Linked DNA regions of Homo sapiens: all the other regions are linked to region 3. The links come from fine-mapping of genetic effects on gene expression. A gene starts in region 3. Each other region holds a variant in brackets. All regions are shown on one strand. Distances are between the middles of the regions.

The links. PIP is the estimated chance that this variant, and not a neighbour inherited with it, causes the effect.
Region 1: its variant is the best candidate, but not a certain one, in a credible set for the expression of HELZ in whole blood (INTERVAL, PIP 0.87).
Region 2: its variant is the best candidate, but not a certain one, in a credible set for the expression of HELZ in whole blood (TOPMed, PIP 0.64).

The regions. Positions count from the first base shown.
Region 1 is chr17:67,197,244-67,207,610 of GRCh38, forward strand. It overlaps HELZ (helicase with zinc finger), which reads right to left. Exons shown (of 33, transcript NM_014877.4): 6 at 6,076-6,200; 7 at 3,886-3,942. Among named protein-coding and RNA genes, the nearest start is that of HELZ-AS1, 42 kb to the right of the region's middle. The variant A/G (reference allele first, on the strand shown) is at 5,360.
Region 2 is chr17:67,090,373-67,100,739 of GRCh38, forward strand. The region is part of intron 31 of HELZ (helicase with zinc finger); the gene reads right to left. Among named protein-coding and RNA genes, the nearest start is that of CACNG1, 51 kb to the left of the region's middle. The variant C/T (reference allele first, on the strand shown) is at 5,157.
Region 3 is chr17:67,240,206-67,250,572 of GRCh38, forward strand. HELZ (helicase with zinc finger) reads right to left here and starts at 4,991. Exons shown (of 33, transcript NM_014877.4): 1 at 4,943-4,991; 2 at 3,579-3,634. HELZ-AS1 (HELZ antisense RNA 1) reads left to right here and starts at 4,571. Exons shown (of 4, transcript NR_136398.1): 1 at 4,571-5,003. RefSeq lists enhancers at 4,215-5,202, 5,203-6,189 and silencers at 4,519-4,568, 4,669-5,158, 5,709-5,798, 5,809-6,008.

The DNA.
Region 1 (10,367 bases), 43 kb before region 3:
TCATTCTTCTCTTGTCTGCCGCCATGTGAGATGTACCTTTCACCTTCTGCTGATTGTGAGCCCTCCCCAGCCACATGGAACTGTGAGTCCATTAAACCTCTCTTTTGTAAATTGCCCAGTCTCAAGTATGTCTTTATTAGCAGCGTGAAAACAGACTAATATACTTAGCTATCCCTATCCTTTAAACTCAGTTCTCACACTTCTGCCCCCCTGATTTCCCTGCAGAGTTTTCCCCTTTCCCTGCCTGTATTTTGTGATAGCACTTACTGACTGCAGGCTGCCCTGTGTGCACATTAGCTGTGTGCATCTCTGACTGACCTGCCAGATTGCTTTTCATGGACATCTCAGCTTTCCAGAGCCTTGAACAGCACAGGTGCTCAGTAAATGTTAAACTGAATCAGAAGGAGTAAACAGTATCCCAAGATGAAATCTGGAATATCTTGTACCATAGAAAGAACGTCAGAATGCTAACGGGTCATAACTGAAACAATACTATCACTATAATTTATATGTGGTTGATTAAATTGTACTTTTTAGGTTGGGCTTGAACTAAACTCTGTAATACTGTTTCCACAGGAAAATGCCTTCTGATTATCAGTAAAGCACTTACTAAGGAGTTTTTAAAAAGCAAGCCATTCTTTTTGTAAAACGAAGGGCTGAATATAAGAATACACAGATTAACAAATCAGGAGTAATTATTCATATTATTAGCATTCTACGCTGCAAAAAAAATTAAAAAAAAGCCATTAAAAGATCTCTTTAAATTCTTCAAGCAAGGTCTATGTGCCACTGTCACAAACTAGCCCTTCAAATGATTCTATTTACATAACATATATAAATAGATAGGCTAAAAATTAACTGCAAGTAGGAAAATTTTAAAGTATCTCCTTTTTAAAACCTATCAAAATAAATTTATCAAATGTGCAAGAAAAATAATGGGAATAAAAATGTTTGATAAACATTATTAAAATGTTTTGGTCATAAAATAAAGCCTAAAACACTTATAAATGTTGGAGAGAACACCACACAGTGCATTTCAGCAGTCAGCACCTGTAAGAATCAGTGACGACCCGCACGGGCCTGTGCTGACACTGAGCTCTAGGTCTCCTGGGGATCTGGGGAGCAGCACATGCTCAGCAGAGAACTGGTAAAGTAAGGCACTCAGCCTGGCTAAGTATTTAGCAGTCCTGGCTTTTAGGTTCCAAAGTGTTGTGTTTGTTTTTTAAACACTCTTTTTATGCACTTATACTCCAAAACAAAAAGGCAACAGTTTATCATCATTAGTCTTTACCGACACCTTCAGGAAAAATGGCCAAAGATTACACTGCTAGAACTATAAATTCAGAATCAAATCTATTAATCAGATATTTTAAATGTTACTAAAGAATATTTACTAAAGAATACTTGTTTTTGTTTTCATAAATCAGTCTTGAGTTCCAGGTCTTTATTCTCATCCATTAGCATTTACAAGTTAAATACCAGCTTAGCCCAATTTTTAAATAACAAATTGTTGCCATTTTTAAATGTGTCATGTGCAATAATAAATAAGGGTAGCACTGTTTGTTAGCTTTTCCTAAACGGTTATCTTTTAATAATATCAATTCACTAACCAAAAAGACTACTACTCTAGTTAGATAGAAAAAAATTACAAAAACTTAAGTCACTTCTTCCAAAAGTATAGTCACAAAATAAGAGTCAAGTGATATATGTGGCCTTACATGCAACAGGATTATAAACATTAAAAATAAAATAAATTGCATGTGATTATCAGATGTAAAGTTGGTAATTCAATTAAGGCAATAAAAGAAGAACAAAGCCAAAAATCTTAACAAAATGAAAGGTCATTTTATGCTGTCATTTTAAAAGTCTAAAACATCTACAACTGCCTTCTGTTACTTCTTAGAAATTAAAACGGCTACATATACACTATTAGGTTGGTGCAAAAGTAATTGCGATTTTGCCATTACTTTTTTTTTTTTTTTTTTTTGAGACAGAGTCTCACTCTGTCGCCCAGGCTGGAATACAGTGGTGCAATCTCAGCTCACTGCAACTTCCGCCTCCTGGGTTCAAGCCATTCTCCTGTCTCAGCCTCCTGAGTAGCTGGGATTACAGGCTCCTGCCACCATGCCTGACTAATTTTTGTATTTTTAGTAGACACAGGGTTTCAACATATTGGTCAGGCTGGTCTCAAACTCCCGACCTCAGGTGATCTGCCCGCCTTGGCCTCCCAAAGTGCTGGGATTATAGGCGTGAAGCACCGCACCGGGACTGTTTTGCCATTACTTTCAAAGGCAAAAACCCCAATTACTTTTGTACCAACCTAATACCTATATATACACATGGCTTTGAAGTTAGTGAGAGCTTACTGATTCTCGGTTGATTCACAATCAGGCAACATAAGACAAAGAAAATGAAATTTAGAAGAAAAAGCCTAATAGTAGCAAAACAGTTATTTTTTCCAGCTTGTATAATCCATGGTGACCACCTTCTTTGCTGTTTTTTGGTATGAACTGGGATACATTACTACATTTGGAATGGAAAGGAACCCACAGGAGTTCAAAGTTGACACCAGGGTCTCTGCACATCCCCTCTGTCTGTCTGAAGCGCCCTCCATCTCACTCTCCGTGAGACAAGCACCTTCTCAACTCTCAGCTCTTGGTTTAACTGTCTCAGTCCTTGGCCACCAAATCCAGTGATTTTTCCAGCAGAAGAGTTCATTCTTTTCCCTCATATCACCTACCTCTCTGTGAATTACACTTACAGTTGTTCAATTTATTTACTTGTTGTCTATCTCCTTCCTAAAACTTTAACCTCCAAGAGGACAAGAACCATGTTCAGTGCTGTATCCCCAGCAACAAGCATAGTACCTAGCACATAGGCAATTTTTGAATAAATAAGCCAATTAATCACTGTACATGGGCTTTTATGACAAAAGCTGACAAAATGGCTATTTTTTAAATAGGACATCTAAAAATAAAAATACTTTTATATGCCTATATGAAGAAGAAAAATTTGAGACTTACAAACCTCAGGGCCTTTTACATGCCACTGTTGTCCCTGACCTTCCATGTGTCCTCCAAGTCCTTCACTGGAGTACTTTTTTGTTCACTATTTATCCTCATACACATTATTTCCATCTCCTAAACACATTCCTTAAAGACAGTCCTTAAATCACAGACTTCCATCAGGTGCTTTAAAAAAGACAAAAAGAAGGCCTGGTGTGGTAGCTCATGCCTGTAATCCCAGCACTTTGGGAGGCAGAGGCAGACGGATCACTTGAGCCCAGGAGACCAGCCTGGGCAACATGGCAAAACTCCATCTCTACCAAAAATTAAAAATAAAAAAATTAGCCAGACGGTGGAGTGTGCCTGTAGTTCCAGCTACTCAGGAGGCTGAGGTGGGAGGATCACCTGAGCCAAGGGAGGTCGAGGTTGCAGTGAGCTGTGATCACACCACTGCACTCCAACCTGGGTAACAGAGCGAGACCCTGTCTCAAATAAACAAATAATAAATAAATAAGGCTTGAGGATATCTCATTTTTAATGATAGCATTTCATTTTCTAGTAGCCAGAAGTAGTTAAAAACTAAAATTTCCCAATCATCTTCCCATTTGTTGTCCAGAGACAGCTAATAAGATACCAGTTCTGTCCACTAGGGACAGAAGATAAGCCCTGGCACACAGAGGAGACATGTGGAGAAGCAGCATTCCCACGATGGGACTGTGGGTTATGGGGGTTACGAGGGAAGGCTGGCAGTCCCACTGCCCCACCTTCACAGCCTCGCCTTCTGGCTGATGCCACAATGGTTTTCCAAATTTTAATACATAATGCTTACTAGACAGATTGAGTCAAACTCTTCCAAACGGATCCACTGAAATGGCCTTACCTCTGTTTCTGAGAGAAGTGTTTTTAGTCTTGTCAAATCCTTTGTTACCATCCCATTCTGAAAGGGTGAATAAAAAAGAGAAGAACCAATTAGTATATTAATTCTTTACTATGGCAACTTAGCTCAATTCCTCTGTTGTTTCTGAGTTTATTTGTAAAAAACAATGTTATCCTCATCCCTCATCACTACTACCATTAACGATGACAATAAAGCAACACATCTATGAGGAAAATTTAAAAGGTTAACAGGAAAAACTATACAGAATGCCTTTTCTGGTAAGTAAAACCACTGTATTCACCTTACATTAATTAAAATTAACTCAAGAAAATATTAACAACAGGTACCACCACAGAACAAGACAGCATAAATGAAAAGGAAAACAACCTATTGCTGTTTTTAACCCTTTTCCTAAGATTAATAAGTTTGTATGTACAAAATGGTGAACCCAGCCATGATTCAGGAAGATTCATATAAGCTGATCACACCACTTTAAAAATGGCTCTTTAATAAAAGGAAAATATCACTCTTCTGAAATCTAAATTTCATTTGAGATTTAAAAGCAAATTACTCTTTACTCGTTTTAAATTTAAAAACAACAGGTAAAACTGTAATATACTTAACTTATACAGAAAAGCCCTTTAATGATAATCTTAATAACAAAGAAGAGATATATTCCTTTATTATCTACTTAGAACTAAATAGCTATATAATTTTTCTATGCTAATACATTTTAGCTTTTAAGTTCATTTATGAATCTGGTGAAATCAAAAGACACTGCTAAACTTAAACATAATTAAACAATTCACTGCACAATAATTCCTTAGAAAATAACTATCCCGAGATGGGCCAATACATTACACTCAACAATATACCAAGTACTTCCCTAACTTCTTTTTTTTTAACCAAATATAATTATTTAATATTTGGAGTAAAAGCACAAATCTGCCCCATAATTTTATCATCTATATCAATTCAGAAGAATAGGAAAGATACAGGGAATTCACACAGCAGAGCAAAGTATACATATACTTTCTTGCTTTCACTGTGTTTCATTATGATTCTTGAAAATTATCAACAAATTTCTTAAGTTACGAACTGGTTTAAAAAAAAAAAGGTTATAGCTCTTTTCTTCCACTTTCTATAGATTATCAAATCCAAAGTTTCAAAAAGTAGCCTTTCAATTATCTCAACCAAAAAAAGCCAAAAAATTAAATATACTTCTGAGCACAGTGGCACATGCCTATTGCCCTAGCTACTGAGGAGGTTGAAACAGGATCACTTGAGCCCAAGAGTTCAAAGCTGTAGCGCACTATGATAACCCCCTGTGAATAGCCACTGCACTCCAGCCTCAGCAATTCAGCAAGACTCCGTAACTTAAAAAAATCAAATGCTATATTTACAAAATTGATTGTAAAGTCTGAATAGAGTTAGCTAGTTCCATCAGAGTGGTTATGGATATTACTTACACACATAC[A/G]AACAGAAACAGAAGCACTTATTAGTTTAGATAGATTTAAACATTTTATGAAATAAATTGTTGAATTTAAGAACCCTATGAGATCATATGTCCACATCAGCATTTTAAAACTCAGGCTCTGTTAAATCATATCTTCAAAGAAAATCACTTAGTTAACCTAAATTATTTTAAAGTATCTACAATTCTTATATATAATCACAAACTACAAGAATTAATAATTAAATATCATTTTGGTCTCGAAAAAAGAGCAGGGGCTCACACCTATAATCCCAGCACTTTGGGAGGCCAAGGAGGGAGGATTTTTTGAGCCCAGGAGTTCAAGACCAGCCTGGGCAACATAATGAGACCTCGTCTCTACAAAAAGTCAAAAATTAGCAGGGATGGTAGTGCGCATCTGTAGTCCCAGCTACTCAGGAGGCTGAGGCAGGAGGATCGCTTGAGCCCAGGAGGTTGAAGCTGCAGTGTGCAGTGATCACACCACTTTACTCAGCCTAGACAACAGACTGACACCTTGTCTCAAAAAAAAGAAAAAAACAAAAAAAGAAAAGAAAGAAAAGAAAAATGGGTACTATATCTCAGGATACTCATGAATTTTGCTTTCTAATAGAGGAAGAACTAAAAGAAAAAAAGATACACTTTTTTTTCCCCACAATATACCTAAGGAATCAAATAAAAATTTGTTTTCAGGCATACAAAATTAGAGCTTATCAACATACCAGGGACTCTCCTGTGAGTGACTTGGCAAGAATGGTGGATACAGGTTGGAGCTTCCCTTTCAGCTGCATGCAGCAAAGCACTGCCCGAAAGGCATCTTCTCCCTTGGCCAGTCCTTCTCCCAGCACTGCCATGAAAGAACAGCCATCATTAACCATATGACATTTAATGCACATTTTTCTTGATTATAGTATTAACACACTATCACAAGCGTGGCTTTTTATATGCTAAAAGAGTAACTTCAAATACTCTAGAGGGAAGCAGTGGTGTTTCTGTTCTGTCCAAAACAGGCATATAAGAACAAGAAAAAACATGCGGCAATAAACATACCGAACTTACAACCAGTTGAGATCAAAATCACAGGAAGAATCAATCCTTAAGCTCTCGAGGGAAAAATACTGTTCAACCTACGAATTCTGGGTAAATGAGGGCTTTTAAATTGCAGACTTAGCTGAATAAAGTTCTCATGTTTTTTACAGTGACATAAGACTGGGTGCCATTAAAATGAGTAAGAACAGAAACTACAAATCTCACCTAGATATTCCTAAGCAATTAAGAATTAGTCTTTATCAAATCCAACAAGATTTACTAAGAATCCAATTGCCCAGTGGCCACAGAAAATGCTACCCAAATTGTTTGCAAGGGTTTGCAGATTTAATCTAATACAATCATGAGGATCATGTTTCTAACAAAACAGAATATACTCATTTTTATGCCATGTCATTTGAGATGATTTCTCACAGCAACTGCTAATGGTTCAATTAGTAGAGCAATCTATATCCTCTGCATTGCTAAGTCCAAGGTTCTATTATTAGTTTGTACATACTTTAGCTTCCTTTGCAATAATTTGCTAAAATATTTTAGAAATTATTTTTAAAATTATTTCCAAGGAAATGTTTCTTTTTAGTATAACATACCATATATATAAAGTCCACTGGATCTGTTCATATTTTTGTTATGAATATATCTTCTCCTATTATTACACAAACATTATAAAACTAATAAAATTCTACATAAGAGTTCATCATAATCTCACTACTCAACGAAGTTTTCACTTACTCATTTTCTCCTCCAATTCTGATCAATGTTCACAACATTTTTACAATGATTGTAACTGATGCCAACATGACAGTTTGTATTCTTTTTTGCCCTCAGCACATTCAGTATTTTCCATGTGATCAGAGTGCTTATATTTATCTTATTATTGGCTATATAATGTTCTACCAAGTAGATACATCAACTTATTTAACCCTTCCCTTATAAGATAATAATTCCAATTATTAACTATTAAAAATAATGCCATAATAAAAATCTTTACATATACCTTTTATTGAATTTACTAAATTGAAAGTTGCAGTCTCTCTGTATTTGACAGGGTTTTATTCAATTATTTTTAGTTTGGACGAATCTATTGTTTCAATCCATCCATATTACAGATCACTCATCTATTCAACAGTCACTAGATAATTCTGTTATCTAGTGAAACTCCAATAAGGAGTTATCAAGTGAAAAACTCCAATAAGGTATCATTAAGAATGTCTTGAGTGTCTTATAAAGTTCCAAGGTAAGTATTCATCTCCCTCAGATCTTACTATTCCTAAAACTCTTCAAATCTGACCTTGGGCAAGTTACTTATCTCTCTGACCCTCAGTGTGGCCATCTGTAAAACAGAAACACGTATAAATTTGCCATTAAAGATTAAATGAAACAATACAAGTAAAATGCTCTCGCCAGGCATGGTGGCTCATGCCTGTAATCCCAGCATTTTGGGAGGCCGAGGCGGGCAGATCACCTGAGGTCAGGAGTTCAAGACAAGCCTGGCCAACATGGTGAAACCCCGTCTCTACTAAAAATACAAAAATTAGCGGGCATGGTGGCAGGCACCTGTAATCCCAGCTACTCGGGAGGCTGAGGCAGGAGAACCGCTTGAACCCAGGAGACAAAGGTTGCAGTGAGCCAAGATCGTACCACTGCACTCCAGCCTGGGGGACAAGAGCGAAACTGTCTCAAAAAAAAAAAAAAATTGCTCTGAAGAAAAATGACACTCCTACTAAGGTATGGATTAGTTACATCGCTAAGCCTATTTCCTCCCCTATCAAACGGAGGTGACAGTAGCTACTTCATAAGGTTGTGGTAAAGATTAATTATGCTAATTAGAAAAGTAACTAGCAGTCTCCTGCATAAGTAAGAATTCCCTACATATTACCTTCCCCTTCTAAAAATTTTACAGCAGTACTGAGCACTGCTGAGGAAATATCTTAGTTCATTTTTAGTAACTGGGATATTAAGAAACTAGTTGTCAAGAGCTGAAAAATGTTTGCAGGAATGAAAAAGTCTAAGAGTATTTCAACTTCATATGATGATGTCATACTTAAAGAGTATTAAATCACATAACATTTTACAAACAGGTTTCATAGATCTTTGGTTTTGTATGAGGTATTTGCTGAATTTCATTTTGCAAGTTTCTTCCACTACATTGCTGTATGAATATCTTAATATTTGTCAAATTTATGTTTCCCTTTTTTCCATCTCTTTTTCAGACAAGAAGCAGTACTGACATACTTTCTTCCTGTTCCCCTTAAATGAAATTCAATTTATGTATGGGAGGATCCCATATAAAAAACTATGGCATAGAAATAGTCAATAACTATAGATAAAAACCTCTCCTGCTACTGTATCGTATAACAAAATTAAATTGCAATGCTGCCAATCTAGTTCCTTATTACCTTGAAAAAGCTTGGGGGAAAAAAAGTATGGCCTACTGTATTATTAAACTTGTCTCGGCTATAAAAACTGAACTTGCCAAAAGACATGACATTAATAATACAATCTTGAACAATTATAAAAAAGTTACAGCTCCTTGCAGATAAATTCTCTTCCCATCAACTATGTGTGAGAGTGTACTGTGCGCACACAACTGTTCTCAAACTGAATTGTTCCTTTCTGTTCACTAGGAGTTACAAAGGAGGACTTCTGTCAGCTCGCTGTGTATCTTTTTTGTGATATTTTCTAACACTTGAAATATGTCTTACTTAGAATGTTTTGGATTAGAAACTGAGTAGACTTAAAGGAGTAATATTCATTCAACTGTTTTAGCAAAATACATCTTTGCTGGGGTTCCATAGCCTCTGGCTATCACAAGGCAAGGATTAACAATTAAAATGCAATTCCCTTTGCTTGTAAAGAATTACCTAATATAAGGAAAGTAATCTTAAAACAAGCTTATAGTAAATGTTGAGTACATATTCTCTACTGTTTTCAGTAATATGACCATATTAGGACTTTTTTTTTTTTTTTTTAAGACGGAGTTTCACTCTTGTTGCCCAGGCTGGAGTGGAATGGCGCGATCTTGGCTCACCACAACCTCTGCCGCCCAGGTTCAGGCAATTCTCCTGCCTCCAGCCTCCCGAGTAGCTGGGATTACAGGCATGCGCCACCATACTCGGCTAATTTTGTATTTTTAGTAGAGACGGGCTTTCTCCATGTTGGTCAGGCTGGTCTTGAACTCCCGACCTCAGGTGATCCACCCGCCTCAGCCTCCCAAAGAGCTGGGATTACAGGCGTGAGCCACTATGCCGGGTTTTTTTGTTTTTTGTTTTTTTGGGTTTTTTTTGAGACAGAGTTTCGCTCTTGTTGCCCAGGCTGGAGTGCAGTGGTATGATATCAGCGGACTGCAACCTCTGCCTCCCAGGTTCAAGCGACTATCCTACCTCAGCCTCCCAAGTAGCTGGGATTACAGGCATGCGCCACCACCCATGGTTAATTTTGTATTTTTAGTAGAGACGGCGGTTCTCCATGTTGGTCAGGTTGGTCTCGAACTCCTGACCTCAAGTGATCCGCCCGCCTCTGCCTCCCAAAGTGCTGGGATTACAGGCATGAGCCACCACGCCCGGCCTTTTTTTTTTTTTTTTTTTTTTTTTTTGAGATGGAGTCTCGCTTTGTTGCCCAGGCTGGAGTGCAGTGGCATGATTAGGCTCACTGCAACCACCGCCTCCTCAGTTCAAGCGACTCTCCTGCCTCAGCCTCACCAGTAGCTGGTATTACATGCACGTGCTACCACACCTGGCTGATTTTTGCATTTTTAGTAGAGACAGGTCTTCACCATGTTGGCTAGGCTGGTCTCGAACTCCTGACCTCAGGTGATCCACTCACCTCAGTCTCCCCAAGAGCTGGGATTACAGGTGTGAGCCACTACACCCAGCCTAGGTTATTTCTTTTATCAAATCCTTAGTTACTTCTGAAGTGTTTTATTAAAGAGCTTAGCCTAATGAAGGTATTTTTTCCAAAAACTTTC
Region 2 (10,367 bases), 150 kb before region 3:
TGTATTGCCTTTATCTAGTTTTGGTATCAGAGTAATGCTGGCCATATACAATAAATTGAGAAGTGTTCTATTCTCTGGAAAAGATTGTGTAAGTTGGTGGTTTTCTTCTTCACATTTTTGGAGGAATTCCATGCTAAAACCATTTGGGCCTAGAGATGTCTTTTTTGGAAGGTTTTAATTACAAATTCAATTTCTTTAACAGTTATAAGACTGTCCATATGCCATCTATTTCATCTTTGGTGAGGTTTTAAGGAAGTGGTTCATTTTATCTATGTTGCTGAATGTATGTGCACAGAGTTGTTTGTAGTGCTCCCTTATTACCATCCTTTCAATGTCTACTGGGTCTGTAGTGACCCAGTCTCCTTCCTAATATAGGTAGTTTGTATCCTCTTTTTGTCTTTGTCAATCTTGCTAAAGGTTTATCAATTTTACTAATCTTTCCGAACAACTAACTGGGTTTTATTGATTTTCCTTTATTGCTTTTCTGTTTTGAATTGTATTGAATTCTGTTCTCATCTTTGAAATTCCCTTCCCTCTGCTTGATTTGAATTTATTTTGCTCTTCCTTTTCTAATTTCTTGGGGTATAAGTTTTGATTATTGATCTGAGATCTTACTTCTTTTCTAATAAAGCTTTTATTAAATTCTAATACAAGCTATAAATTTAAATTCTAATATAAGCTATAAATTTCCCTCTGACATGGCTTGAGCTGCATTACACAAATTAGGACAGGCTATATTTCCATTTTCACTCAATGTAAAACATTTCTAATATTTCTAATGAAGAACCTTCCATTGGTCAAAGATAGGGGACAAGGTGTGAAAATGTATAAGGACTACAATAAAGTAAAAATTCAAATACATAATGATATCAAATAATAATATTCAAAGTGAAAAAAGAAGGGGAAAAAAGCCTCAATGGTCATCCTGAGGCCTGCTAAGGCCTCAATTCATTACTCTGAAAATTGACTAATAAAGGGCAAGGATTAAACATTTATCCTTCCCTTTCTACATAGACTATATTTTAGGTAGTAATTAAATATTCAATGAGGAAAAGTTCTCCTTTATAAAAGAAAAATAAATACAAAAGAAATTCAAAGAAGTTTTAAATAATCATTTTGCCATTCTAATGAAACAATAGATCTAAGCAACAACCATCAACAGCTGCTAAAATCTGAAAGGTTGCTAGAAATTTTAACGTCAATAGATCAGAATGACATCATCTGATCACTGAAACATACTGATCAACTTAACATAGCTAAAGTGGGAAAACTGGATATTATGTACATCTTTAAACATATAATTTAAAATGAGACATTACATACTGCCTGGTAATTTTTCACTGAAATATCATAGGTATCTTTCCATGTCATGGACACTCTTATAATATCAGATTTAATAAGCTGCATTTTTTTTCTTCATTTACTTAAAACTAATCTATTTAATTTCCCCAAGATTTGAGGAAGAAATCCTTGATTATAGAACACTTAGGGTCTACTAACTTATTTCAATTTAGCTCCCCCTCAAATTATCATTTTCTGCTTAAAGCAAATACGCTACAGTTTGGTGGATCAGTACAGTTCCCTAGAGAGAAAAAACTAGATGGAGCAAGGAGAGGACTATCACTATAAGACTAAAAATAATCAATTTATTAACAAGCCAGATAACGTGTGATGAATAAACTGTAGTTTACAACAGTAATATCTGTGGGTTCATATCTATGGGTTCATGTGATGTAATCTATTGAAAAGCACTTGATAAATTACAAAATCATTTTTTAAAAGCATGATTCCCAGTTAATGGTGGCAACTGGCCCAAGACTCCACTAAAATAATAATAAATGAATATTATAGATATACAACAATCAAGACCATGAGCCTCGTCATCAATAGAGGACACATTTCCAGAATACATGGAGACTGGATGGAGGAATGGTGTCTGTGGAAGAAGAATGAAATTATAGCTACCCCCCAAGAAGGGAAACGATTCACCTAGCAGAATTCCACAGAGGCTTGCCAACTAATATAAAATGAAAGGAAGATGAAGGGATAAAATTAGGGGGGTTAAATGAAAGTCTATACAGGAAACAGCTGGACTCATACTCCTCCCCGCAACAACAGTGGGACACAGCCAGCCAGGTACCTACAATACAGACAAAAAGATAAGGAGACAGACAAGCAAAAATCCGGGAAAAACGAAGGGCTCCACATGGATTCAAGCACTAAAAAGTCCCCAGTGAAAGGCCTGCCAGGCAATACATCCTGTGATATACACAAAACTCCCAAGTTGCTTTTTAGTGAAAGATAATCAAGCGGCCAGGCGCAGTGGTTCACGCCTGTAATCCCAGCACTTTGGGAGGCCGAGGTGGGTGGATCACCTGAGGTCAGGAGTTTGAGACCGGCTGGCCAACATGGTGAAACCCCATCTCTACTAAAAATATAAGAATTAGCCGGGAGTGGTGGCGGGTGACTGTAATCCCAGCTACTTGAGAGGCTGAGGCAAGAGAACTGCTTGAAACCGGCGGGGGGGGGAAGTTGCAGTGAGCCAAGATTGTGCCACTGCACTCCCACCTGGGTGACAGAGCAAAACTCTGTCTCATAAAAAAAAAGATAATCAAGGATTACCAGACTTTTAAGGAAGGTCTCCAGCATAAAAGATAGTCCCAGATGAACAAGTTGAAAAAAGGGAGGCCCGGAAAGAAACAATAGTGATGTTTTAAAAATATTTTAGAACATTGTTTTAGTTCTTATTAAAAATCAAAAACAAAACAACAACAAACCCTCTAACTGGTGTTCTCAGAAAAGGCACTGCAGAAAACAAGATGTTATGAAAAAGGAAAAAGCTCAGAATAAAGAACTCTTGTGAGTTTAAAACCTGAGGGCTCAAATATTAAATGCAATAGTTCTTGCAGATAAAATCAAGGAAATCTTCCTGAAAGTAAGAAAAAGTACAAAGGTATCAAAGTATGACAGGAAATAAAGATTTGGAGAATCTAGGAGGCCCAACATCTTATCAAAAGAAGTTTCAGAAAGTGAGACATGGAGAAAAATAATGCTAGAAAATTATCAAAAAAGATTAATAATAATAGACAATTTCACACAGTTGAAGGATATGAGTCCTTCTCTAAAGCAATGCTGTCCAAAAACTATTTCCTGTGACGATGGGAATGTTCTGTGTCTGTACTGTTCCATAAGGCAGCGCCTTGCCATGGGAGCTCCTGGTCAGTCAAAATGAGCCTACTAGGACTGAGGAACTCAATTTTAAATCTTATTTCATTCCTAATCATAACCTATCCATCAAGAATTCCTCTAGGTTCTACCTGCAAAGTAGATCCTGAATTTATTTCTTACCATTTCCACTGCTACCCCACAGTCCAAGCCACAATCACCTCTTGCCTAGATAACTATGACATCCTTCACTATTTATATTATTTTTAAAACTCTAAACAAATAAATTGCATTATTTTCATACAATTTCTAAAGTAATTTTAATGTCATTTTAGCCTTATAAAACTCAATCATAATGACAGAAGCAAAAATTTATCTTAGTTCCCAAAACTATAGTAGATTTATTTCTAGGTTTTGTTGTTTCCCTTAAAAGATACAGACCAAACTCCCGCAACATGTAATTTACCCATATAACAAACCTGCACGCATACTCCACTGAACCTAAGATAAAAGCTGGAAACAGCATGTAGTCCCAGCACTTTTGGAGGCCGAGGTGGGCAGAGTGCTTAAGTTCAAGAGTTCAAGACCAGCTGGGTGACACAGGAAAACCCCATCTCCACCAAAAAATACAAAATTTAGCTGGGTGTGGTGGCATGCATCTGTAGTCCCAGCTACTTAGGGGGCTGAGGTGGGATGATCGCTTGAGCCTGGAAGGCAGAGGTTGCAGTGAGCTGAGATCATATACTGCACCTTGCGCCTGGGTGACAGAGGGAGACCTGGTCTTGAAAAAAAAAAAAGAGAGAGAGAGAGAGAGAGATACAGGCATACCTTGGAGATATTGCAGGTTTGGTGAGAGAGAGAGAGAGAGAGATACAGACATACCTTGGAGATATTGCAGGTTTGGTGAGAGAGACAGAGAGATACAGACACACCTTGGAGATATTGCAGGTTTGGTTCCAAACTACTGCAATACAGCTAATACTGCAATAATGTGAGTCACGTAAATTTTTTGGTTTTCCAGTGCATATAAAAATTATATTTATACTATACTATAATCTATTAAGTGTGCAATAGCATTGTATGTTTAAAAAAACACAATGTATAAAGGCAAGCATGGTGTCACATGCCTGTAGGCCCAGCTACTTGGGAGGCTGAAGAGGGAGGATCATTTGAGCCCATGAGTTTGAGGCTTAAGTGAGTTATGATCACACCCATGAATAGCCACTGCATTCCAGCCTGTGCAACATAGTGAGACACTCTTTAAGACATTTTTTAAAATGTATATGGCTTAATTTTAAAATAATGTATTGCTTGTGATTCTCTGGCTAAAAAACTTAATCACAAAAAATACATACTGTATTGCTAAAAAATGCTCACTGACCAGGGTGGTGGTTGCTGAAGGCTGAGGTGGCTGTGGCAATTTCTTAAAATAAGACAATAATAAAGTTTGCCGCATCAGTTGACTCTTCTTTTCACAAAAGATTTCCTTATAGCACACAAAGTTGTTTGATGGTATTTTACTCACAGAACTTCTTTCAAAATGGGAGTCAATCTTCTTAAGCCCTTCCAGTATTTTATCAACTAAATTTATGGAATATTCTAAATCCTTTGAACTCCTTTGTTGTCATTTCAACAATGTTCACAGCATCTTCCCAGGAGTAGATTCCATCACAAAAAAACACTTTCTTTGTTCACCCATAACAAGAAATTTCTCACTGGGCTCAGTGGTTCACGCCTGTAATCCCAAAACTTTGGGAGGCCAAGGTGGGAGGATCACTTGAGGCCAGGAGTTCAAGTCCAGCCTGGGTAACATAGTGAGATACAAACAAACAAACACCAAAAACAAAACAAAACAAAAAAATTAGCCAGGCATGGTGGTATGTGCCTGTAGCCCCAGATACTGAGGAGGCTGAGGTGGGAGGATTGCCAGGGTCCAGGAGGTCAAGGCTGCAGTGAGTCATGATTGCACCACTGCACTCCAACCTGGGTGA[C/T]GAAGCAAGACCCTTCTCTTCAAAACAAAAGGGAAGAAATTCCTCATCTACCCAAGTTCAATCATAAGATTACAGCAAGTTAGTCATATCAGGCTCCACTTCTAATTCTAGTTCTCTTGCTATTTCCACCACATCTGCAAGTTACTTCCTCCACTGACTTCTTGAACCCCTCAAAGGCATCCATGGTGATGGAATCAACTTCTTCCAAACTCCCGTTCATATTGATATTTTGACCTCTTCCCAACAATCACAACAAGAAAGCGTTTTTTAGCAATACAGTATATATTTTTTGTTCTTAAATTTTTTAGCCAGAGAATCATTAATGGCATCTAGAATGGTGAATCCTTTCCAGAAGGTTTTTAATTTACTTTGTCCAGATCCATCAGAGGAATCACTGTCTGTGGCAGCTATAGCCTTACAAAATGTATTTCTTAAATAAGACTTGAAAGTCAGAATGACTCATTGATCCATGGGCTGCAGAATGGATGTGTTAGCAGGCATGAAAACAACATTCATGTCCTTGCACAGCTCCATCAGAGTTCTTGGATGACCAACTGCATTGTCAATGAGCAGTAATATTTTGAAAGGAATCTTTTTAAAAAATCCCACCCCCCCTCCCCCGCCCACCAGCAAAGCAGTAGGTCTCAATAGTGGGTTTAAAACATGGGTTAAACCATGCTGTAAATGGATATGCTGTCATCCAGGCTTTATTGTTCCATTTATAGAGCACAGGCAGCATGGATTCAGCATCATTCTTCAAAGCCTTAGGATTTTTGGAATGGTAAACAAGCACTGGTTTCAACTTAAAGTTCACCAGCTGCATTAGTTCCTAACAAGACAGTCAGCCTGTTCCTCGAAGCTTTGAAGCCAGGTATTGACTTCTTCCTCTCTACCTGAGAAAGTCCTAGACAGCATCTTCTTCCAATAAGAGGCTGTTTTGTCTACACAGAAAATCTGTAGTTTGGTGTAGCCATCTTCATCAATGATCTTAGCTAGATCTTCTGGGTAACTTGCTGCAGCTTCTATATTAGCACTTGCTGTTTCACCTTGCACTTTTATGTTATGGGGATGGCTTCTTTCCTTAAACCTCATGAACCAACCTCTGCTAGCTTCCAACTTTTCTTCTCCAGCTTCTTCATCTATCTCCAGCCTTCACAGAATTGAAGAGAGTGAGGGTCTTGCTCTGGATTACGCTTTGGCTTAAGGGAATGTTGTGGCTGGTTTGATCTTCTAACCAGATCACTCAAACTTTCTCCACATCACTCAAACTTTCTCCACATCAGCCATAAGGCTGTTTCATTACATTCTTATCATCTGTATATTCACTGAAGTAGCACTTTTAATTTCCTTCAAGAACTTTTCCTTTGCATTCCCAGCTTGGCTAACTGTTATAAGAGGCCTAGTTTTTGGCCAGTCTTAGCTTTTGACATGCCATTTTCACTAAGCTTAACCATTTCTAGTTTTTGATTTAAAGTGAGAGGCATGCAACTTGTCCTTTTACTTAAATAGAGGCCATGGTAGCATTGTTAACTGGCCTGATTTCAATACTGTTGTGTCTCAGGGAATAGGGAGACCCAAGGAGACTAAGTGATGGGGGAACAGCAAGTCAATGGAGCAGTCAGAATACACATAACACTGATTGCTCAAAAACAATCACAATAGCAACATCAAAGATTATTGATCACAACAGATAAAGAAATAATGAAAAAGTTTAAAATACTGTGAGAATTGTCAAAATGTGATACAGAGGCACAAAGTGAGCACGTGCTGTCAGAAAAATGGCGCTTATAGACTTGCTCAACATGGGGTTACCATAAACCTTCAATTTGTAAAAACTATAATATCTGTGAAATGCAATAAAGCAAAGTACAATAAAACAAGGCATGCCCATATACTGAAATAAATGTGACTTTGCAACACAGTGCATCAAAATCAATTTGGGTCTAAATTTTAAAAAATGCCATTTGAAGCATCTCAGAGGCAAGGGCACTTATAATTTACAAATAGTATTTTCCTACCAAGCAATATTATTTTCCTATACATCCATATACAAGGTCATAGAAGGGATACCAGAACGAATACAATATTACATCTCAGAGAAAAACGTCAGGTTCACTGCTGTGACATTTGGAGCTACCTTGAATCTATCTGACTCTTGTTTACTGTTCTTGAATATGAAACAGTGAATTAACAATTATAGAGCACAACAGCTCTTACAATGAGCAAATGTTGGGGTGGATAGGAAATAAAATAGTTTGCAGTAAAAGTTTACTCTTTGACCCACAACTATTTGAATTTTCTCTGAAGATTCATAATTATTAAAACTAAATAAATTTTCCAGCTTTTGGAAAAAATGTAATGCTGGAGAATGTGTTTTATTCTTAAAGAATGTGGAGAAATTAAGTACATTTCTGATATTTGAGATCTCTAAATTAATCATTTGAGCAGTCAAACATTTAGCAGCTACAACTGGATACAATTCAAGAAATCAAGAATTCTAAAATGAACTAGCTCCCTTTCTCCCCACCACCCAGAAAAAATAAAAGGCAAATTTTACACAACTGAAGATTGAATTCTTCACAAGAACATAATTTTGCTTTTCCCCCACATCTAGTTCTGTGTAATTGCAATCATTTCTCATTTTCTAAGAATAAACCTTACTCATGGAATAGAGATCTGAAGAGCAGTGTGATGCTTCAGAAACAGCATGGGACTGTCAGGAGTCTCCACTCCCTTGAGTTAATAACTGCTTAAGTTACAAGTCCTTTAATATCTTTGTGCCTCGGTTTCCTTTTAAAAGGGGGGAGTTAAATGATCTTTAAGGCCTGACTAGTTCCAAAGTTACAAGATTTAAAGTCTTTGATAAATCAAAGTCTTTTTCAATAAGAATATATTTTAACTTTTAATTAAAAATGTCCAAACAAAGCCAGGCGTGGTGGCTCACGCCTGTAATCCCAGCCCTTTGGGAAGCCAAGGTGGGCGGATCACCTCAGGTCAGGAGTTTGAGACCAGCCTGGCCAACGTGGTGAAATCCCGTCTCTACTAAAAAAAAAAAAAAAAGAAAAATTAGCTGGGCATGGTGGTGGGTGCCTGTAATCCCAGCTACTTGGGAGGCTGACACAGGAGAATTGCTTGAACCTGGCAGGCGGAGGTTGCAGTGAGCCGAGACTGCACCACTGCACTCCGGCCTGGGTGACAGAGCGAGACTCCATCTCAAAAAGTAAAAATAAAAATGTCCAAACAACATCTATCATCTTTAACAACCATCAACAATTTGATAGACTCGCTAAAATATTCCAAGTGTGATGACAAATCCAAGCCTATTTATGTGATTTAAATCCAGAAAACTATAGGACATGCTAACTGACTGCAATGAAATGGATTCTGGGCAACAAGTTTAAAATGTCCTTTTTTCCTCTGCCAGAGGGTACTTCCTATACAGTAAAGGCCCCCAAACCAAAATTTTAGAAAAACATCTGTAGCCTACAAAAGAAAAATATTTCTGACAGAGAAATCCCTTTACATCTCTATCAACACTGTAGCTTTGTGGGCCCCTAGGCTGTTTAAACATACTTTCCTTCCTTTCTGTTCTCATTTCTTATTTATTCTTGTTTCTATTCTTATCTTTTATTTTCTTTTCTTATTTCTTGACTTTGTTTCCTATTGCTTTCGCCCAGTTCTGTTTCGGGAAGTGAGTATTCCTTCTACATACATCTTCAGCCAATCAGATTGTTCCTTTATTTTCGGATGGCAACCCTACCAATGACTGATGCTCAGGTTTAATTTTAGAGTCCTCAGGTCTTAAATAATTTCATTAATGTTGTTTAAAGGCTCATTTACCCTGCCAGAGAGATTCTTAAAGAGATTCTGTGAAGTTCAGTATCAACTCCATATATGATTGTGTGTTTATAAATATGCTTCATGTTTTACTGTGAGATTATGGTACTACACATATAATCACGATTTTCAAATTCTGCTAATATTTCTTTCCAAATATTAAAATGTAATGCTAACATTTCAAAAGCCATTTAATACAGGAAATCTAAGAAAGAAGGAAAAAACTAAACTACAAAACTCATGTATAAATTTTTACTGTTAAAGATAGTTTTAGTTTGAGTAAAAACTCCTAATTTGCTTACCACTGTCTTATAAGATATACCTCTAATATATGACGTTATCAAGCCATTTCACCTGTGTGTATATAAATAGATAACTGGGGAAAGGTCAGCAACTTAATTAATAAGGGCTCTATTTATAATTATGCCATCAAAGCTAATCACCAAGTAAGAGCTAAATACACTAGTTGAAATTCTAAGTCTCATTAACGATGGTGCCAGAAATTTTAATTAAAATAGAACATCTCATTTAAATGATTAGCTTTGATAATTTAAGCATGAATAGAGGTCTAATTTATTAATTTGCTGATCACTGTTACATGCATTAGATGGTTTATTAGATATCATACATTAATGATCTCTTTGAGAAGCTATGTCAGAGAAGACAGCAATATTTCTACCTCGTTATACAACACAAGTCATAAGCTATCACCATCTATTCCTAAAGTGAGAATAGGCAATAATCAACCAAGATTATAATCTTCAAGATACATCTGTACAATACTTTCCTCTAAAAAAGAGAAATTGGGGGAGTCACGATGATTAGACAACAGTATGTTGAAATTAAAATTATCAACTAATTTAAAACAAGAGTTGTTTGAAAGAAAAAATGAAAATAGATGGCTCAAAGTGTCTCTGTTGAAAAACCAACACACAGAACAAGAAATAGTTCAAAGCAGACACATCACTGAAACATGTATGTCATCTCTAAGATGATGTAAGTAAATGTCGATTTACTGAAAGCTGATCAAAGTAAGTGACTTACTAGCATTCCATTTTTATCAGAAAGCCATTACAATATCACAACACAAAAATGAGCCATTTCACAAGCCAACTCCGAGACTTTTACAAAGATGCCTTCAAAAAGGATTTTCTATTTATTCCTTATGAGCACTTTTAATCAAACTACTCCATAGTGAAGCACATCTTAAATGGCAAAAGCTTTCCTTTGCACCAGTATCAACATTGCTACATAATCGTTTTGAGAATTTGTCCCTGAAGATAAAATGACTGAAAAGTATAATGGAAAAAAAAGGTCCCATTAATAACAAAAACAAAACAAAACACATCACTCTAAGAATATTGGAAATACTCA
Region 3 (10,367 bases):
CAGAATAGTCCCTGCACAACATCCAAACTCTGGTTCAATGACCATGCCTTTTCTGACTTCTCACTCTACTTCCACACTGCCAGAATATCTCAGGAATAGAGAGGTCTTCCAAAAGCTAAATGACACCCAGCTGTTTGCCAGATTCAGCTCAAGGGAGCAGGACTAGAGACAGAAGAAGAACAGAGGCTTTTCTTTTTTTTAACCTTTTTTACTTTACATAAGTACTGCTCAAATTTGTTTACCATAAGCATACAGGAGTTTTGCATAAAAGTAAATAATTTTTTAAAACTGTATTAGTTAAACACGTTGCCTACTGACAGGAAGCTCGCATTATAGGACATTTTCATCACAACAAAGATAATTTCTGCAGAAGGAAGCAAAAAGGCAAATTCAGATGTGACAAGAACACCTAAAATATAGCACAGAAATGACAAAAATCACAAACATTCACACTTCAGAATAGTTCAGTCAACAAAGATGCCATGCATTCTTTGAAGAACCTGACGATGAATCAAGTTCTTTTTTGTTCAAAGACAAGATATATGTATACACTCTGCTTTACCAAACAACTTCCTGCTCTTACTTGGAGAAACTGACCCAGTACAATTCACAAAAGTAAACAAGTTGGTATGACTGTTGGTATTAGTTGAAAAACTTTCCATTTCTTTTGAATAATTAAAAGTTGACCAAAATAGTTATTACATGTATATATAAATAAAATTCTTCCTGTTACATCTACAGTGGTCTTTTAAAAAGAGGAATATTCACTTCTAACAGATTCAAGATTACTGAAAACTATTATCCCAGCCACCCTCAAAGCAATAAACCATCATGTTATATGCTGCTTCTAGCCAATGCTACAGAAGTAACCCTGACTGCACTCATCAACTGAAATGAATGGTAAGATAGTATGGCATACTCTCCACTTGTATCACTTTTCTTCTAGAAAACATTTCAAAACATTACTTAGAAATCCAATTACATCTGCATGTATATTCACCTAAGTTTATGAAAATTAAACCTAAAAATTTGCTTATAATTTTTTAAGTAGTTCCTCCCCATCTCTTGGATAACTGTTGTTGATACACCTGGCCCGAAATCTTCTATACATTTGAAACAACAGGCAAAGGTCCTTATTTCTTGTATGGGGCCTGTATTTGGATCTTAGGGTCTCTGACAGACAATTATAGACTAATCTACATTCAATATTAATGCCAAGCCTACTGCTTAAATAGAGAACACATGCATCTGTAAGATCTGGGCTACTTACTTGTAGGTCCCTCTGCACTATTCTTAGCCTTTCATGAATATGCTGTAGATTTTTTAATTACACGAGGCCCTTTGCAAGTAAAAATGACTTTTCCTGTTGTTTTGGCATCACTCCTCTTCCAGTGAAAACTGGACAGTCTATAAATATATACCAACTTTAAGACAATGCATTTTAATATCTATGGCATTAGAAAATAAAACTTCTTGTTAACAAATGCAATAATCAAGTTTACCAGCTAATAGAAAGGTACTTACTCCCAAAAACTACAGCCTTACCTAAAAATAGTGTCCTAGCTTCCCAGCCAAAAGGACAGACTAAAAAAGCTCTGTCTTTATTCAGCTCAGAGACACAGACTTCTACCTCACCACAACCTTCAATACTATGGCATTTCCCATTTTAGAATACTTTGTGTAACAAGTTGTTCAGTGGCCAACCACTAACTTCGCTTTGAAATGAATACTAACACTTCACAGAGTCTACATGTGTGAGAACTGTGGAAAATGTCTTGACACAATTCAGGTCAAACAACACTAGCCACACAAGATTACCTACTTCTAAGTATTCCATTTTAGACTACAAACAAACATCTCCACAGTCAAAAAGCAGACCACTGGCTCCTTTCCACAAAATTATCTGTAGGCTTCAAGAAAAAAGATAAGGCCAGGCATGGTGGCTCACGCTTGTAATCCCAGCACTTTGGGAGGCCAAGGCGGGCAGATCACCTGAGGTCAGGAGCTCGAGACCAGCCTGACCAACATGGTGAAACCCTCTCTCTACTAAAAATACAAAATTAGCCGGGTGTGGTGGCGTAAGCCTGTAATCCCTACTCGGGAAGCTGAGGCAGGAGAATTGCTTGAACCTGGAAGGTAGAGGTTGCAGTGAGCTGAGATCGCGTCATTGCACTCCAGCCTGGGCAACAAGAGTGAAACTCTGTCTCAAAAAAAAAAAAAAAGAAAAAAAATCTATCTATCTATATACATAGATACACACATATATACACATATATACATATATACACACATATCTATACACACATATATGTATATATACACACATATATGTATATATACACACATATATGTATATATACACACATATATGTATATATACACACATATATAAAGTTCAAATTGGGAGGTCTAAGGCAGGAATATGCCTCCATCTGCAAAATAAAAATAAATTTAAAAATCCATATTTGCTCTGCCAAAAATAAAAATTATATGAAATAAACATAAGCACTGCTGAGTTTCAAACACAAGAAAATGCAGTATGTGCACTTACAAAAGAATCTTGGTTTATGTCCACCTTCCTTTCCTAAGTTTTTATTTTTTTAAGGCAAAATGTCAATTACATGCCTCAATCTAGAAAAAAAAAAAAGGATAGCTTATTCTTCTTAAACAGATGTTGTGATAGACACGAAAAATTTGTGAGAGGATTTCAAAATCCAGAGGCCCAGATGTGTGGAGAAACAACAAAAAAAAAACTACAGTAACCAATCGACCACAATTACTTATTATTTTTCTAAAAAAAAACTTAGTAAAACATTTTAAGTTGAGAAAACTCGTGAAAAATGTAAAAGTAGCAAACTTCTCTTCCTCTCTATAGCACAGAAAACTATTCACTAACACTGTATCAATAATATCCTTTAAATCCAAAGCATTACAAATTAGATTAAATAAAGCACTTTGAATAAATTCACACACCGTGTGTGATCAGGACATAATGACAAACTAGTCTATTTCCTAATAAGCTAAACAGATCTCAACACTATCATCTTTATTTCAAAATAATTATTAAAGAGAAAAGTACTACTCCATTTTTCAGAAAATAAAAGCAGGAGTGATTGACCTGCCTAATTCTTTCTAACGGAAAGGGTATACTTTACGAGTCCCACAAACCAGGTACACACAAAATCCATATACATAATCACCGGGACTAAACGTACAGTAGGTGATAGACACCAAAACACAAATAAAATTAAGACATCCAAGTAAAGTTACGCAAGAAAATTTGAATAGGCAAACTATAATTATCCCTGGTGAAGATACTGATCAAGAATAGCTGCAAGTAACATTTGGCTCTTAGTTAAGTACCACTATGTTTGAGTATGTTGGAGCAACTGAAAAGATTGGTACATTCAACATATTTTTCCTTTCTAAATCTAGCCCTGCCCATAGACCCACTGACTGAGTGATACATTTGGAAAACAAAGATGGCCCCATCAAATTACTCAGTTTCAGCCTTACTCTTACCAGTTGATTAAAATAAAGAAGGAAAAAAAGGAAATCATTTTTAACTGCAGTCTCACCTTACACATCTCACCAGCACTGTAGTTCATTAGTGATCCATTACTTCATCCAAATCCTGAGGCAAATAGAAAAGATGTTTCCATACAACACCAGTAACAGACATTATCAGTAGCAAACATTTTATCAGCCTGAAGTGAAAGGGCATCTACATTTAAAATGGAAAAAGTTACAAAAATGGTACAGTGTGCAGCTTTGCAAATGAGTCTGGTTTTTGACCTTAAAACATTTCCTTTCAGTAAGGTAAAAGAATAGATTATACAATGCTCTTAAAACTCAAAAACATAATAAAATCATCTTTTTCAACACAGACTGACCTTACTTTCAAAAACATAAAGAAATGAAGGAGAGGAAATTTCATTAATATGAGTTTAAGAGAGAGCAAAATTAAGAACAAACTAGGCAAGACAGACAACTCCTCCCTCCTTCCCCCGCTCCAGGAATCCACTGTCTCTGAAGTTACACTTTTTATTATATTAATGATTTGCCTGAGAAGTGTTAAGTTGTGAGGGAGAAGGAATGACAATTTTTGAACTGCAAACAAAACCTGAGGATCCCGATCCAAGAACAATCAGAGGACCCTGGCTTCCAGCCCTGTCTGAAGATTTCTCAGCAAAGGCGAGGGTGCAGAAGGCTCCAATAATTTAGGGGAGAGGAATCGAAGTTCCCTAGGTAAGACTGCAGTCTGTGAGCCCTTGAAAAGGGTACTGGAGTACTCTCAAGGAATCTCCAGGAAAAGAGAGCCTATCTTTATTTTTGTTGATGTGCTTGTGGGCCAAAGAGCATTTCCGAGGAGGGGGCGGGGAAAGGGGGGAAGAAAGTGAATCTCGGGCCGAGAGCCCTCCGCGGGGGAGGGAGGGGGCGCACGCCTGACCCACTTTTCCCCACGCCCCCGCTCCAGCCCCCACCCCACCCGGTGGAAGTCCGAGGCCTGAGGGGGGGCATCGAGCGGGGCGTGGGAGGCCCGCACGCTCCCCACCCCCAGCCGCGACCCGGAGGAGGGGAACGTGCCGGGAGGCTCGAGTCCCCCTCCCAGAGTGCTCTGGGCCGGAGAAACCTCCCGCAGGCTCCCGGGCCAGGCGTGCAAGGCCCCCTCTCCTGCCAGGGCCCAGGACGCTGCGGGCCCCAGCGGAGGGGAAGGGGACTAAGTAGGGGAAGAAGCTGTAAACAGCCCCAGCGTCCGGGCCTCGCCTCGAAGAGCCGCGCTTCCCAGGCCCAGCCGCGGGCCGCCCAGGCCCCCAGCCTGCCCCGGGGCCGCCGCGCCCGGGGTCCGGGACACCGGAGGGGAGTCGGGTCCCCTCCCCGGAGAGCTCCGGGAGCTCGCGGAGCGGCCCCAGGAGCAGAGAAGGGGGAAGTCAGGACTTACCTGTCATTACTTTCTACGCCATCTTGGATCCACTTGTCAACGTCCCCACAAAGCATTATGGGTAAGAAAGAGCCTTTAAAGTGACTCCCCCCGGCCCCCGACTCCCGCCTCCCGCCGCCGGCGCCGCCCCCTCCGGCCGCGCCTCCCGCCCGGAAAGTTGCCCCGGGTGGACTGCCGACCCCGGCGCCCGCAGCTGGCCCCTTCCCCTCCCCCGGGCTGACGGCATTGAAAATTCACCCGCATTTTTAAAACGTGGCTTTGGGGTTTTCTCCCTTTCTCCTGCCCCGGCCTCCCTGCCCCCACGCCCGGTCCTCTCGCCTCGCCGCGTTCCTGCCCGGGCAGACGCCCCGCGTCTGCATTGAATCAACCCGAGGTTTCCTTGCCGCCCGCGGCGCGGCGCGGAGCTGCTCGCGGATTTATTTGTGCGCGTGGATGTGAGCGTTTCTGCTCCTGCGGCCGCGCTTCCAGGAAGCCCGCGAGCGGCCGGGGTCGCCTTCAGAGGCCGCGCAGACCAGCTCCGCACCCGCCGCCCGGAGAGGTGCCTCTGCCCTGGGAAACCGCCCCGGGGCCGTTGGGCTCCGGGAACTGGGAGGACGCCGTGTCCCCGAGTCCACCAGCGTCGAAGCACGATTTAAAAAAAAAAATTGAGCCAAATGCAACTTTTTACCCCTTGTTTACTCTGTGTCCCGCGGTCTCCTCCTCCGGGCGGGTAACGTGATCCGCGACCCTCTAGGTGGGGACCCCTCCCCTAGGAATGTGGCTCCAGGCTCCGCGGAGCCACCCTGGGAGCGTCCGGGCTGCGGACTGTGACTCCGGGGCAGGTAATCCGGGGCGCCGGCTGCGGGCTCCGGGCGGGGCGGGGCGCGGAGGCAGCCAGGGCTCGGGGGAGGGTCCCGGGCGGAAAGCAGGGTGCGCCAGTCCGGGTCCACCTGGCGGGTCGGGGGAGAACCGCGGGCGCCGCTGCAGCTCGGGAGGCTGGAGGTGGGGACGCCCGGCGTCTCCGGGCTGCGACCCGCTGCGCTGGAAAGTGTGGGGCGCCTTGGCGCGGGCTGAGGTCTCTGACCCGGGCGAGTACCCCCAGCCCGCCGGCCACACTGCTGCCGGGCATCCTCTCCCCGCGACACCACGCCCGCTTTCGGCTGCGCGGGGCGAGCAGCGTACTGACCCCGGCGTCCAGCCGCCCAGGTCCCCCCAGCAACGGAGGCCCCTTGGTCAGCCTCCTCCCGCGCTCTCCGCAGAGCCTCTGGTCCCTGCTTTGCTGTCTTTGGAGGCCTGCTCCAGTTGCTTTTTTTTTTTTCCAAGCAAGTTTTTACAACAAGGAGATACCCAAAAGAAAATTCTCCAAGACAGGAATGCTTGCGAATTGTATTCGGTACAAAATGCTGTTGAACGGCTCTACCTTTAGAAGACCGCAGAAGCACTGGCATTAAAACCCTCTTTCGGTGCACGGGGAGGGCCTGGGGCCTTGGATCTACCCGAGGATTTTACGCTCCTCCAGACCCTATCAACAGCCTCACTAGGAACGTGAACGGTGGCAGACAGGAGCCCTGCCCCTGGGGAGCCAAAAACTCCACCAGGCAATTGTCCCGGTCTGATGAGAAGGTGTAGACACATTAAGGGATTGGCCCCGGGTCACTCGTGAAGGAGGGAACGAGGTAGTGAGTCATTCCCAGCCAAGAACGCAGCGTGCTGGGGAGCAACCTCCCCTGAGTCACCTGCTTCTCACCTCGGAATAAGTGGAGAAACTGGAGCCTGGAGCCAGGTTCTTAGACGGCCCAGCAAGGTAGCCACCAAGGGCATGGGCTAGGCTGGGGGGAGGCAGCGCCCCTCCTGCTGGAAAAGGGAATGCTTGGCCCGTCTGAAGAAGGCTCCAATGTCTCTTTCCAGGGTACCCCAGGTGCTTCTTTTCCAATTCCTCTTTTGCACTTATTTAGCCACTGGTATGCACTGGCTTAATGGTGGTTTTGTTTGCATGGCACCTTTAGGTATGTGGTCTGAGTTTATGCAAAAGTAATGACAAAAGCCGCAGTGACTTTTGCACCCACCTAATATAAGTAAACAGGAAATAAGTTGAGGGCAAGGACTGTGTCTCCCAAACACGTTTCTTTGATAAGCAGCCTTTCTTTGCCTTGTATAGGCATTGACCCAAATAAGTGTTCAGTTTGTGTGACTGCCCAACCCATTCACTGCCTCCAGTGTGTGCATCCAAGCCCAACCTTGTCAAATACACCGCCTGTTGCCTGAGCTGGGACGGCCTGCCGACTCTTCTCCCTGCCCCTCCTGGATACCTACAATGCATCCTCCACCTGACCAACCCTGTGATATTTTATGAATGTAAATCAGATCGAGACTTCTCTGCTGAAACCTTGGAATAAAACCCAGATTCCCAACCCTGGCCTACAAGCTCCTGTGTGAGGTGGTCCCACCTTCCCTCACCAGCAGTGGTCCAGGCTGGCCTTCTCTCTTTCCCTGCAGCGCCCCAAGCTTCCTTCCAGTGAGAACCCTATTCCCCCAGATCTTCTGATTATCTTTTCTTTGACAGAGTCTTGTTCTGTCGACCAGGCTAGAGTGCAGTAGCGCGATCTCAATTCACTGCAACCTCCGCCTTCTAGGTTCAAGCTGTTCTCTGCCTCAACCTCCTGAGTAGCTGGGATTACAGGCGTCCGCCACCGCGCCCGGCTCATTTTTGTATTTTTAGTAGAGACAGGGTTTCACCATCTTGGCCAGGGTGATCTTGAACTACTGACCTCGTGATCCATGCGCCTTGGCCTCCCAAAGTGCTGGGATTACAGGCGTGAGCCACCACGCCCGACCCATCATCTTTTCATCATATTTAGGTCCCCTCAAAGAGGACTTTTGTGATCCCCCTACCCAGACCAAGTCACTCTGAACACTTGACCTGTGTTAGAAGTTCTCTTGTTTAGGTCGGACGCTGTGGCTCATGCCTGTAATCCCAGCACTTTGGGAGGCCAAGGTGGGTGGATCACAAGGTCAGGAGTTCAAGACCAGCCTGGCCAAGATGGTGAAACCCTGTCTCTACTAAAGGTACAAAAATTACAGCGCGCCTGTAATCCCAGCTACTCGGGAGGCTGAGGCAGGAGAATTGCTTGAACCTGGGGGGCCAAGGTTGCAGTGAGCCAAGATCGTGCCACTGCCCTCCAGCCTGGGTGACAGAGTGAGAATTCCATCTCAAAAAAAAAGTTCTCTTGTTTGCCTGTTGTTAGTTGTTTCTTATCTGCCCCGCCCCCATTTGATCATATGCTCCCTCTGGGCACAGGCTCTGTCTGGCTTATTTGCCTCAGTGACTAGACCAGGGCCTGGCACATACATAGACGCTCACCAAGTATTAGTCGAGTACATGACCAAACTTCTCTCAGGGATGGGCGTGTTGATGAAAAGGAGTGCTAAAGTGTGAAGTGAGATGCTGAGGGCCCTGCCTCGCATCTCTTCAGACCACTGACCACACACAGCTAGAGGCAGGCAGAAAGGAACAGTGTTGAGGGAAAACAGGTCCCTTGGCCACCACTGATTTAGCTCAATTCTGATTCTGATCTCATGAACACACACAGCCCTAACTAACTGATCCCCCCGACATCACATCCCTCTTCCTTCCCACATTTTTTCTTTCTCCTCTGCTCCCACTGGCCGTGGCTTCTTTTCTTTTCTTTTTTTTTTTTTTTTTTGAAACAGTGTCTTTCTCTGTCACCCAGGCCGGAGTGCAGTGGCGCGATCTTGGCTCACTGCAACCTCCACCTCCTGGGTTCAAGCGATTCTCCTGCCTCAGCCTCCCGAATGCTGGCACCACAGGCACACACCACCACGCCCAGGTAATTTTTGTATTTTTAGTAGAGACAGGGTTTCACCATGTTAACTAGGCTGGTCTCGAACTCCTAGCCTGAAGTGACCCACCCGCCTCGGCTTCTCAAAGTGCTGGGATTACAGGTGTGAGCCACTGTGCCCGGCCGCAGTGCCTTCATTTTCTGCTTGGAGAGTCCCAAGTCTCAGTCCTTGGGTTTCTCTTCTACAACTACACTCCCTGGTCATTTGCCTTAGTACAAAAATTAGCTGGGCGTGGTGGTGGGCGCCTGTAATCCCAGCTACTCCAGAGGCCAGGGCAGGAGAAACGCTAGAACCTGGGAGGCAGAGGTTGCAGTGAGTTGAGATCGTGCCACTGCACTCTAGCCTGGGTGACAAGAGTGAGACTTCATCTCAAAAAAAAAAAGAGAAATAATTATAATGGACTGCCCACGGTGGCTCACGCCTGTAATCTCAGCACTTTGAGAGGCCGAGGCCAGGAGTTCGATCACTTGAGACCAGGAGTTCGGGACCATCCTGGCCAACATGGCAAACCCTATCTCTACAAAAAATACAAAATTTAGCTGTGCATGGTGGCTCATGCCTGTCATCTGATCCCAGCTACTCGGGAGGCTGAGGCAGGAGAATCAAGAATCGCTTGAACCTGAGGGGCGGAGGTTGCAGTGAGCTGAGATAGCGCCACTGCACTCCAGTCTGGGTGACAGAGTGAGACTGTCTCAAAAAAAAAAAAATTATAATGCCTTGAGGAATGTAAAGTACATCTAGAATTGAAATATTTGATAACAGTGAGTATAAATCTGAGAAGGGCGGTGGTTGCAGTTAGTGGAGTTAAAATGGTCCAAAGTAGGCCGGGCGCGGTGGCTCATGCCTGTAATCCCAGCACTTTGGGAGGCTGAGGAGGACGGATCACAAGGTCAGGAGATCAAGACCATCCTGGCTAACACAGTGAAACCCCATCTCTACTAAAAATACAAAATATCAGCTGGGTATGGTGGCGGGCGCCTATACTCGCAGCTACTTGGGAGGCTAAGGCAGGAGAATGGCGTTAACCTGGGAGGCGGAGCTTGCAGTGAGCAGAGATCCCGTCACTGCACTCCAGCCTAGGTGACAGACTGAGACTCCGTCTCAAAAAAGCAAAAAACAAACAAAAAAAAGGTCCAAAGTATTTACATTATCCAGCAATACGACTAAAGTACCAGTTAAGACTAGACATTGACAAAGGCAAAGATGCATGTTGTAACATCTAAGTTAATCACTAGACCTGTAAAAGAATGAATAATTTCCAAGCTAACATAGAGGGAAGACAATAATAAATTCAAAAGAAGGCAAATACTGATTAAAAAGACCACAAAAGGCCAGGCAGGGTGGCTCACGCCTGTAATCCCAACACTTAGGGAGGCTGAGGCGAGCGGATCACAAGGTCAAGAGATCGAGACCATCCTGGCCAACATGGTGAAACCCCGTCTCTACTAAAAATACAAAAATTAGCCGGGCGTGGTGGCGGGTGCTTGTAATCCCAGCTACTTGGGAGGCTGAGGCAGGAGAATCGCTTGAACCCGGGAGGCAGAGGTTGCAATGAGCTGAGATCGCACCACTGCACTCCAGCGTG